2 linked regions of the Homo sapiens genome follow. The protein of the gene in region 1 purifies or fractionates together with the protein of each later gene. This does not show direct contact. Each region holds a gene or a part of one and is shown on either strand. Other genes may lie near its edges.

The links.
Region 2: the proteins of KLHDC8A (region 1) and PEX7 purify together in Homo sapiens (affinity purification with mass spectrometry; 2 studies listed by BioGRID and IntAct, with this or other methods). This does not show direct contact.

The regions. Positions count from the first base shown.
Region 1 is NC_000001.11:205,346,837-205,354,128, reverse strand, and holds part of KLHDC8A (kelch domain-containing protein 8A), read left to right. Parts: intron 1-5,538; exon of another isoform or gene 5,539-5,753; intron 5,754-7,292.
Region 2 is NC_000006.12:136,909,418-136,914,552, forward strand, and holds the end of PEX7 (peroxisomal biogenesis factor 7), read left to right. Parts: intron 1-4,040; coding exon 4,041-4,109; 3' UTR 4,110-4,517; downstream 4,518-5,135. UniProt on the Homo sapiens protein: Receptor required for the peroxisomal import of proteins containing a C-terminal PTS2-type peroxisomal targeting signal. Specifically binds to cargo proteins containing a PTS2 peroxisomal targeting signal in the cytosol.

The sequences.
Region 1 (7,292 bases):
GCTGAGGTGGGGCCTGGATCCCTAAAGCCTAAGTCCCAATTGCCCTGCCTGTTCATGGGGGTAGCCCAAACCAGCAGCCATTTGAGTGGGTCCTCGCTGGGCTGCTGGTGGTCATCTTAGAATCATGGTGGCCTGAAGAGGATATGGGCTGTGGGGTTAGGCAGATCTGAGTTTGAATCCAGCATCCTGTTCTGCCTAACTCTAATAGCTTTGGTGAGTTTCCTAATCTCTCCCATTCCTTCCTTATGTAAATAGACCTCTTAGTGCTTGTTTCTCTCAAGGTTGTTGTAGAGATTATGTGATAAACAGAGTAAATGTCCCTGGTATACAACAAGGGCCCTCAAAATGTTTGTTTCCTTTTATTGCCACTAGATATTGCCGTGTCAACTTAACATTGCCACGGTGGTGTGAAGCACGTTGTCAAGAATAAGGTGGCAAGCTGGGAGTGGTGCGTGTCTATAGTCCCAGCTACTCAGGAGACTGAGGCGGGAGGATTGATTGGGCCCGGGAGGCTGCAGTGAGCCACGATGGTGCCACTGCACTCCAGCCTGGGTGACAGAGTGAGACCTTGTATCACACAAACAAGAAAACAAAAAATAAAAAGAATAAGGTGGCATTCCCCTTGTTCCCTTAAAACAGCCTAAGGTGCAGGGGAGGGCACAAGCATTTTCTGTAAAGGGCCAGATAGTAAACATTTTATGCTTTGCGGGCCATGCGCTCTCTGTTGCAACTACTCCATTCTGCTGTTGTAGTGGGAAAGCCGCCATAGACAACACGTAAATGAGTGAGTGTGGCTGTGTTCCAATATAACTTTATTTATAGATGCTGAAATGTGAATTTCATATCACTTTCATGTATCCCAAAATATTTTTCTTTTGATTTTTTTTCCCCAATCATTTAAAAATGTAAAAATTGTTCTTAGATTTCAGGCCATACAGAAACAGGCAGCAGGCCAGGGTTGGCCCTCAGGCATAGCTTGCTGACCCCTGCACTGAGGTACAACCTGTGATTTAGGGAGGATTTTTATCAAGGAATCTCTCAGAACATAATTCCCAAGACTGGGACCAAAGCAGGGAGATGGCATCCAAGGAAGAAAATAGTCCTTTCTGGGCCAGGACTAGAGAGGAACAAAGGACACACTGGATCCCTAGTGGTGGTTCCTCGTGGGGGGCAGCTGTTAGGTCTGGGTGTGAATAAAATTGTCCCTCTGTTTCTTGCCTAGTGATGTGCAGGGATGGACTGGCAGCTCCTGGGTGCTAAGCAGGCAGCCACATTCTCCTGGCGACAGGCTACAGGAGGATGCTCAAGGGCCAAGGCCCTGCCACTCCCTCCTTCACTGGGAGAGAAATGCAGGCTTCCTGGGGCTCCTTAGAGATCCTCAGGTACACACCCACCTGCCCCAGGAGTGCCGAGTGATGAGGACAGGCAGATCCTTTGATTCACCCAAAGCTTGGCCTGGTTCTCACCTTTCCAGACTCTCATGGCTTCTTAGACACACATATACACAACACACTCGCAGCCAGCTCATCACGCGTCCCCGCCCTCTCCCGTCTCCAGCACAGAGAGCACAGGTCAGCACGCCAGATGGCAACCTTGCTGCTGCAGCAGATTGCCGTCTCCCTAGGGAGCGGGGGTGAAAGCAAAGCACTGGATGATGCCTGGGCTCCAGTCCCCACCCCCTCCTCTCCAGTGTGCCTCTGTCTGGTCCTTTCTCTGGGAACAAGGGGTGTGTGTATGTGTGTGTGTGTGTGTAATGTAAAGTGCCAGAGGAGAAGGGGAGAGGTGAGGAGAGAGCAAAAGCCACTCCCTACCTCTGTACAGGTCCTGCCCCAGTGACCTGGCACCTCCTTCCATCTGGAGAGTGAGCGGGACCTCCCTCTCTGGCACCCAGGGAGGCTGGTGGGCTCTTAGAAGTGAGTAGAGGCATGGGATGGACAACAAGGCTGCCTCAAGGCCTGCTGGGAGAAGCAAAGAGGCCTGGGACCTTTCAGGGTGACTGCTGTCACTTCCCGGCTCTCTGGAGGGCCCGGGCTGAGTGTCATGCCAGCCTAAACAGCCTAAACTGTGAACCTCATCATCCTCTTCCCAGCCCCATAAAGGGCCCACAGCCTTGGATCCCCCTGGATGTCAGAGTCAGACAAAATTTGGAGTTAGGAGGGAGGCAAGGAAGGAGAGGCAGGCCATGAGAAAACCTCCTTTTTTTTTTTTTGAGACGGAGTTTCGCCCTTGTTGCCCAGGCTGGAGTGCAATGGCACCATCTCAGCTCACCGCAACCTCCACCTCCCAGGTTCAAGTGATTCTCCTGCCTCAGCCTCCCAAGTAGCTGGGATTACAGGCATGCGCCACCATCCCTGGCTAATTTTTGTATTTTTAGTAGAGACGGGGTTTCTCCATGTTGATCAGGCTGGTCTCAAACTCCCGACCTCAGGTGATCCGCCCGCCTCAGCCTCCCAAAGTGATAGGATTACAGGCATGAGCCACTACGCCCAGCCAAGAAAGCCTCCTCTTTTTTTTTTTTTTTTTTTTGACTATTACAGAAGTTTATTTAACAAAAAGTCTAATATGAAAATGTACATGACCTAATTTTTACATCATAGTAAAACAGGACCTATGGAGAGAGAGCATGGGTTTCTCTGCTGACCAGCCATTATTTATACTCATTCCAAGGCTTCTAACATGATGATACTATTTCCTCATATTACCACCATTCCAATATTGTTCTGTTGTCCACTAGTCGCCATTTCCACACATTCATCTATCACAAGGTTCATAAAGGGATCAAATCCCCGCAATATTCCTTGGACATGTCTGCCACCATTTAATTTCAATGATAACTTCTTGTCCATAAATTTTTTCAGCTCGGGAGGGTGAGCTTTGCTCATGGTGTATACTCCGCGGGCTCACAGATCGAAAGCCTGCTCTTAAAGTGAGCAGTGATGATCAAATAAAAGCCCAATATATGCTATGTACCAGGTGAGGAATCTCTATGTGGAAACAAGAGGAATCTTCGGGGAGTGGACCCTTCTCTCCTGGGTGGGGATGAGACAACAAATGAGCTTTTGTCTTCCAAATAAGGCAGTTTTCCTAGGAAGAGGGACTCCGGTGAGGGTGAGCAGGCCAGCCTTTTGTTTAGCCTTCTGTTTCTAGCAGGCCCTCTACCTCTAGGCCTGCAGAGCCCCATGGGGCTGGACTGTGGGTCTGTGGCCCTGCTCATTTAGAGCCTGCCAGAAGGAGAGCCAGCTCCCAGTGCCTCAGCACACACACACACATGCACACACACATGCGTGCGCGCACACACATGCATGCACACACACACATGCACACACAGGCACGCACGCCATCATGATAGGCAGGCTGGCCCATCTGCCAATCAATCTTCCTTGCTGATTTCCCAGCTGGAAGCAGCAGGGCTGGTGTGTAAATCATTCAGAGCCGTCTCTCAGCTCTGCCAGGACGTGGAGCTCTTTTTAATTAAGAAGAATGGAGGATGCTGCTGACTTTGGAAGGGGCAATATTAACTTACTAATGGGCATTTAAAGAGCCGTGTCTGAGTGGTCTGCTGCAGCCTTCCCCAGCCTATAGCCTTTTCTCCTCTGCAGAGCTGCCCTCATAAAGGCTCTGCTGTCCTCTACTTGAGAAGGGGTGAAGATTAGGCCCCCTAAGGGCCCCAGCCTGGTGACCTGGGACAAATGGGCACGTTTTCACTTTTAGAGAAAGAGCCATGTCGGGATGACCTGAGCTCTTGCATCCTCTGCCACCCTTGCATACTCTCCTGGCAGCAGGCACCCCAGAAAGGTCAGAACCCAACAGGAAGCAGGTGGGTGCCCAAGGTCTATAGGGAGCCAGCCCATTCGCCACAGCTGCAGCTGTCACAAGGCACCCCCTTGTCCTGGGCTGATTGGAGAGAAAGGAGGGTGGTGGTAGCAAGAGAGGGTAGCCAGGGGAAGCCCTGATAAAGTCTTCACTGGTGACTGGACCTGGGGTAGCTGGCAGCGCTTGTGAGAGCTGGTGGGGCCAGACCTCTGCGATCGTATCACCTGGCAGAATGTGAGGGTGTTCGTTCTAGAATCTGCTGCTTTGTCACTATGGCTAAATGCTTCTTTCTCTAGGGCTCCCCGCCTGTATAGCACCCCAAGAGTACAGAATACTCCAGCTGGGAGGGACCCCAGCTGCTCTCTTCTTCACCTTCCTTCCTTCTAATTTGACAGGCACCAGAATGGATATGACTTGCCCATAGTTGCACAGCCCGGTTACAACAAAACGTAGGCTGGAGGTCATAGCCTTCATCGTAACAAGACGTAGCAGAGGTCTTCTGACTGTCCTGTGTTTTTCTAGTATGGCCCGGGCGGCAATACAGGAGGCAGCTCCGTGGCCTCTCACCTCACCTCATGCTGGTGTTTCAGGTTTCTGACATTGCTGGTCAGGAAATTCTTCCTTGTTTATAACTCAAATCCTCAGGCTTTATTGTAAGCCCCATTTCCTCTTACGATTTCCTCAGTAAGCACAGGGAAGTAGCTGAGGTCTTTGAGAAGCATACCTTCCCGCACGCACTAAACAGCAGAGGAGCGTGTGGCTTCCCAACCCTTCCTTCTCTACATTGTGCAACTCCTGAGTCTGAAAACGAAGATGACTCCCTCCCTTTACCCATCATCCCATATCTGGGGTCCACTTTCCAATGTCCCAGTTTTACCTAAGTAGGCAGGAAGTTGCTTACAGATGAACAGATGCATTCGTTAATGGATACCCACTAAGGCCCTCTAGGTTCCAGGCACCAGCTATGCACTGGAGTGGGAGGGAGCAGGGAGGATAGCTGAAGGAATGTGGCTGATTCAACTGTCCAATCAAGGCTGCGTGGTCAGGAAGGGAACCTGAATAACTGAGGCCATTCTGCGGGACTCCAGCCCTCCACCTGCAAGGCAGCAGTGCCACATGATCACATACAGATCCTGGTTCTGACTGCTGGCAACTGTGTCATACCATCTCCCATCAAGTCCACGTGAGCTCTAAATCCTTCCTCTGGGCTGATGTTGGGACTGGTGGGGAGGAGGCCCTAATGAGGCTTCTCTATGCTGGGGGAGGAACTACCCTTTCCTTGGTCTGCTGGCAGCCTCAGTCCTAATTGGATGAGTCAGCCTCACTCCCCACTCCCTGAATAAGGACCATGCTTCTGGTTAGGAATGAGAAGGTGATTAGCTAAAGGAAGGGCACAGCTGTTCTCCAGATTAGAATGCAATTTAGGTTGCAGCAGATGAGATTTCAGCTAGCTAGGAGAAAAGATATCCTGTCTAAGACACAGGCCCAGAAGTGATTGGCTACAGGAGGGTATGGGCCCTGGTAAGGCTGCCTATCTTGTGAAACTGGCACCTGCTCTTGGGGGGCACACTAGCCTGAAAGTCAGAGGTACAGAAACTTGCCATCACAAGGGGAAGAAAGAAACTAGTCTTTATGAGGTACTTACCACGTGCCCAGGAACTATGCCTGGCATCTCCTTCCTCCTACAACTCTAGAAAGTAGATTTGCTTATTCCCTTTTTCACAGATGAGGACACTCAGATTCAAGGACATAAGTGACTGGTGCATAATCACACAGCTAGGAGGTGGCTGCACCAGGATTCAGATGCAGCCTGTCTGATGCTGACCACATGGTCTGTGGGGTGCTGCAGAAAGAAAACTGCATAAAGAAGGTGATCCTGGCCTCGGGGAGTTCCTGGTGTGTGCCTCCAGCCAGCGTGGTACCCTGCAGAGGGCACTCCGGTAAAGAGTATTTCTGGGGAGGGATAAGGAGCAGCTAATCACTAAACAACTCCTCTTCCCTCCTATCCCCCTGAAATGTTCCCTACACTTGGAATTCCAGCAGACGTTGAAACCCTTCCCACAGTTACTCCATCCATGGCCTGCCACACTGAGAATCTGCTTGGTTTATTGGGAAGAAACTGTTCCCCACAACACCCCCAACTTCCCCCTAAGGTACCGCAGTTTAGTGAAGGCAGGATCCTGCTGAATGCCTACCAGACAATAGAGACTGAGTAAAACTGTGCATTTCATTGTATGTAAATTAGACCTTAACAAATCCAAGACTTACTGAGCCTGTCAAGGTGGTGCATGCCTGTAATCCCTGCTACTCAGGAGGCTGAGGCAAGAAGATGACTTGACCTCAGGAGTTCAAATCCAGCTTGGGCAATATAGCAAGACCCCATCTTTTTAAAAAGAAACAAAACCCAAAACGTACTGAGTGACTTTTTTCTGGGGCTGAGCATCCTCAAGTTTGATTGATGCACCAATATCTATAATAAAGACTCCACAGCACCAAAGATGTAATCTTTAGAGGCTTTTATGACTTTTCCCTCCCTTAATTCCCCAACCTCCCACTCCTACCTTGTAATGAAGGGGAAAAATGAAACACTTTTTTTTTAGAGAGACAGGGTCTTGCTGTGTCACCTGGGCTGGAGTGCAGTGGCACGATCTTGTTTCACTGAAGCCTCTACCCCCTGGGCTCAAGTGATCCTCCCACCTCAGCCTCCCTAGTAGCTAGGATTATGTGCCACGAAGCTCAGATAATTTTTGTTTATTTTTTGCAGAGACAGGGTCTCACTATGTTTTTGAGGCTAGTCTCGAACTCCTGGACTCATGTAATCACCTGCCTCGGCCTCCCAAAGTGCTGGGATGACAGGCACAAGCCACCACATCCAGCGTAAAAACTCAAATGCTTTTTAAGGCAAAAGAGAAACACCGGCTTAATGTTACGCAAGATTTTAGAGCAAGAAGGATTTAGATTTGACATGAGGAAGAACTTTCTGACCAGGAAAATGGTTACACACTAGAATAGGGTAGGGAGGGACCAAGGAGTCACTGGACACTCTCCCTCCGATTAGCACTCCTTAAGGCCCCATCTTGGTGCACTCAACCCAGGCAATGGAAACTACAGATGACTCAGGGAATCTTAAGTGGCAGTTGCTAGGTTACAAGCTTCCTCGATGTGCACTCAGTGTAAGCGCTAAAGGATGTTACCTGGCGGAGAGGAAGAGAGATGGGGGAGATGGAGAGAAGCCAGGACTTCCAGAACAAGCAATTAGGTCATGGTCTGGAAGACATCCTGTTGTTAGTACTTTTCCAAGGGTCTGAGTCCCTAGATCTCACGGTCTGCATAGAAGATGGTGCCTGTAGGATATGAGCCTTAGTTTAGAATGGGGGCCTATTCTGGGGCTGGATTCCAGCACTTCCTTACCTGCACTGCCTGGCACAAACAGTATGGGCAGCCGCTGGAATCTCCTTGGTGGCCTGGGCTCCTTTCTT
Region 2 (5,135 bases), on another chromosome or scaffold:
TCTCTCTACTCAACAAAATCTTGCAGTGCTACCAGAAGCCATTGCAGTGGCAGTGATAATTAATAAGAGGTCCCCTGGGGACCACATGGCACAATAGTTTTTCCTTACCAGGAAGTTCCTACATAGCAACCTTGGAGAATCTAGAGCCTCTTTGTTAGTTAGTAAAGTGCTTTTTTCTTACCTTATTATTATTTTCTTTATTGTTAGCTTGCTTAAATTTGTAGAACCAGATAGGGCTTAATTAACAAATAGAGGAATACTATTTTCATCAATTTGAATTAATCTATTCATAATTCTATATCATTGCAGTTTTAGATCTATCTTAATCCAATTAAGTATAGATTTATGAACATTTGCTGAATCAGTGGCCTTGACATTTGGTAGTTATTATAAGTCCTGAATAAATAAGAAGCTGGATTGGAGAGTGCCGAATAAGGTTTCAGAAACATAATTTATAGATACCTTGCACTAGAAACCTAAGTCTTATTTCTCTGATTCTCTTCTCTCCAGTAGCGGATGCTTAACATGTGGGAAGGCCCAGCACTTGAAAAAAATAGGCATAGATGAGACAGGGGTAATTTAACATAATGATCTTTGTGTCCTATGGTATAAAAACTGAAAACTGCAAGATTAGGCAAATAATGGTTTTCAGTTTGCCTTTTCTATGAGGCACTGTTTTAGTGGATACATTCAACAGGTTTAGGTTCTGGCTGTAGCTCTGCTACTCTATTGTGAACATGAGGACAGAGTTAACCTCTGAAATTGTAATCTATGAAATTAATTTGTTGAGCCAATATTCATTGAGTTATGTTCTAATAAGACATGGTCCATGCCCTCAAAGAGCTGAAGACAACTCTTTGTCTTCAGTTGGGAAAATAAGTACAATCAAGTATTATGGGTACAATGAATGACTTCATAGAGGAGATGATACCTAAACTGATTTTTTAAAAAAGAGACATCTCTGGCAGAGCAAGGCAAAGGGGACAGAGGAGCAGACAGAAAGGGAGGGAGAAGAGGAGTTATTAAAGGGAAGCGATCAGTAAAGGAACAAGAGCGAAGAGGCATAAGCAGCATGCTTGGATTTGAGGTGTGAGCCCGGTGCAATGAGAAATGAAATGGGAACAACCAGATCTTGAAGAGTGAGGTTTTTAAATTTAAAAGTTTGACTAAAAAGTCTATAATGCTCTCTGTAGCTTGGATTCTGATCTCAGAATATTGGTAGTGAATGATTGGCTATCACTATTCAAAATTAGTGATAGCCAAGAAATTACATTAGTCAAAACGAGGTTTCTCTTGTGTAATTTTCAGCCTTTGTAATAAGCATGAAAGGCTGGGAAATGGAGTGCAAATACTTTTGGTCAAAAGCACTCTCTTGCTACTTCATCTTTCATTTTACTGCCTACCTTGTTTCTTTTCTTCTTTTTTTTAAATTGTGGAAAATTTTGAAAACATACAAAGTAACAGAATCAGATAACGAACTTCATTACTTAGCTTGAACAACTATCAACATTCTTATTTTATTTATTCCTGTACTCTCACACATCGTTTAGTTATCGCTAACATTATTTTTACTATTTTTAGGTATAATTCACATATATTGAAATTTACAAATCTTAGATATACATTTTTGACAAATAGATACGTCTGTGAAATTCACATCATCCCAGTTATTGGAAACTGGGAAAGCCCCCAGTTTCCTTTTTACCCCTTTCCAATCTCCCCTATCCCCACCCTTCCCTCCAGGTGAGAAGAGTAACATTGTTCTGACTTTTTGTTTGTTTGTTTGTTTACCTTAGATGAGTTTTGCCTGTCTTAGAATTCTATAAGGAACTCTTCTGTATGTCCTCACTTGTTTCTGGCCTCTTACCTGTGAGCTTCACCCGTGGTACTGAGCCTGTTAGCAATTCCTCCCTTTGTTTTGCTGAGCACATGCTGTTGTATGAATTTACTACAATTTGTTACCGATTCTTTTGTTAGTGGGTATTTTGGTTGTTTTCCTTTTTTTTTAGACAGAGTCTCACTCTGTTGCCTAGGCTGGAGTGCAGTGGCATGATCTCGGCTCACTGCAACCTCTGCCTCCCAGGTTGAAGCGATTCTCCCACCTCAGCCTCCCTAGTAGCTGGGATTACAGGTGCACACCACCACACCTGGCTCATTTTATGTATTTTAGGTAGAGGTGGGGTTTCACCATGGTGCCCAGGCTGGTCTCAAACTCCTGACCTGAGGTGATCCATCTGCCTCAGCCTCCTAAAATGCTGGGATTACAGGTATGAACCACTTTGCCCAGCCTTGTTTTCGATTTTTTGCTATCGTGAATGAAGTTGCTATGAACATTCGTGTCTACATTGTTTTGCAAACATATGTTTTCATTTTTCTTGGACAAATATCTGGGAGTGGAATTACTGGGTCAAAAGATAGGTATGTGTTTAACTTGGTAAGAAACGGCCAAATTGTTTTCCAAAATGGTGGTACCATATACCTTCCCTACCAGCAATGTATGTGATCACAGCTGTTCCACATCCCTGCTGACATTTGGTGTTGTCAATCTTTAATTTTAGCCATAATGTGAATATATGGTGGTATCTCATTGTCATTTTTATTTGCATTTCCCTAATCCCTAATGATGTTGAGCACTTTTTTATGTGCTTACTTTTGCCCATCATTTTTCATTAGATTGCCTTTTATTATTGAGTTGTATTGGTTCTTTATGTATTCTTGATACAAGTTGTCAGGTGTATATTTTATGAATATTTTATATAACTGTGTCTTGCCTGTTCATTTTCTTAACAGTGTCTTTTGATGAGCAAAAGTTTTATTTTTGATTGAGTGTAACTTACCAAATTTTTGATTATTACTTTTTGTATCCCTAAGAAATCTTTACTTACCTCTGTATTGAGAATATATTTTCCTTTTTTTTTTTCTGAAAGTGTTATACAGTTTGCTTTTATATTTAGGTCTGTGGTGCATCTCAAATTCATTTTTATGTGCAAAGTTGGGGTCAGGATTCACTTTTTTCCCTATGGATATTCAGTTGTTCTGCCACCATTTATTGAAAAGACTATTTTTTCCTTTTGCTCTTTAATTGTTTTGGTACCTTTGTTGAAAGCCATTTGTCCAAGTGTGGGGCCTATTTCTGAACTCTGTTCTCTTCCTTTGATCTACTTGTCTTTATCCTAATCCTGCACAGTCTTGATTACAGTAGTTTCGTGCTGAGTCTGGAAGTCAGCTAGTGTTAAGTAGTGCAGCTTTGTTTCATTTCAAGATTCTTTTGGCTAAGTCCTGGCATTTCCACATAAATTTTAAAAATTGCCTCATCCATTTCTATTAAAAAACGAGTATATAGAAACACAGTGGTTTTCATATATTAATTTTATACCCGGAGACATTGCTATATTCACTAAGTTTTTAATGCATAGTTCCTGAACACCCTGGACTTTCTTCCCTTCATGTTTTCCTATGGCTCTGTAGATGTGAATGTCCTTGTCTTTTATGTCTGCCTCCTACAGAGGTCCAGTGGGAATGCCATGGCATTGTGAAGTTGTCTGACACTGTCCCAGCTGGAATCATATAGTCCCCCTAAGAGTCTCTGTTAGTGCACCTTCCACACTCAGTCTTGAATGAGCCATTTTTTGAAGGCAAGAGCTTTACTTTATCTTCCTCTCCAGTCCCACAATATTGAGCACAGCATCTTGTTCACAGTCTGGAACGTATCTTTTCGACATTTATATCAGATAGTAGGGAATTATGTAGCTGTTGGGTGAAGTGAAGGTGGGGGACATTCTTATAGGAAACCTCAGTCAATTGAAATATACCAATTGGAATATACTCAATCAATGGGAATCAGTTGGAATACCCTGAGGTATATCCTAAAAAGGGAATATGGACCTTTTATCAAAAACGTAGCCCTATGTTTTCCCTATTCAAAAATATGTTTACTAGTGGATGATTTACGACACTCTAAATGACTTGAGTTTTTGCTGTCAATTTTGAATTTTTGTATGTCTAAATACGTTTCTTCTTACTTCATTTTTGTTTTCTAGGTGGCTGACTGTTCTTGGGATGAAACAATAAAGATCTATGACCCTGCTTGTCTTACTATTCCTGCTTGAGATACACTACTTTGGTCAGAAACAGAGGATGTTGGCTGAAGAACTGCCTAACAGCAAATAAATTAACTATGGAAAACATAGACATTATGCTTTTATATGCTATTCAGATTTCAAATCTTTCCAATTTACCCTGGAATCAGTTTTGAGGGAGCTGATAAAGACTTTAGCTGACTCGTTAAGCCTGATACATAAGCCATATTTAAAATTCTAAGAAATAATTAATGTTATGATATATCTTGTAGTATCTATTAAAATGTCTCTGGGTCATAAAATGGATTAAAATATGGGAGATCAGTAGGTTATACTTATATAGATAGTGATATATTTCATTTTTAATTTGTCATTTTTGATGTAAAATATAATCACTGCTGTGATAAATAAACTATCTATTGATCATTTATCATTTTATAACTTCCCCCAAAAGACTGCTCTTTCTAATACATTGTATATGTGAATATAGTACTATATATAATATAGATATATCTGTGGTTCAGTAACAGGACACTAGAATATATTTAATTTATTCTTTTATTTAGTAGCTGTTTATTGAGCATCTACTCAGTGCTTGACACATAGACTCAATGAGATTCTGTCAAGGACTGGTGCCATGTTTTTAAGAACATGGAATGCTGTGAGCTAAGAGCTTACTTTTTTTTTTTTCTTAGAATTTATTCACACATTTTTAGATATTGTACCCATGACTCTATAATTTTGTCTTCCCACTTCTCTAATATCAAAATTTTTTTAAACTGTCAATTAAACAAAAAGTTTTAGGTCCTACTAAGGCTTCTAGCTTTTGCCCTTGAAACCAGGCCTAAGTACAGCTATACGTGCTCCTTGCCACCTCCCTAAGTTTTCTTGAAAAAGCTCTAGGTGCAGATGAACTGAAAAAAACAAAAAAAGTTGGTTAAAGAGGAAAAATCAGCAAAACAAACTACTTTGCATAACACTTATATTTTCTACATAATATTAAGATATGCTATAAATAGCAAAGATTATAATTCTTAAGTTCTTTTTAAAGAACAA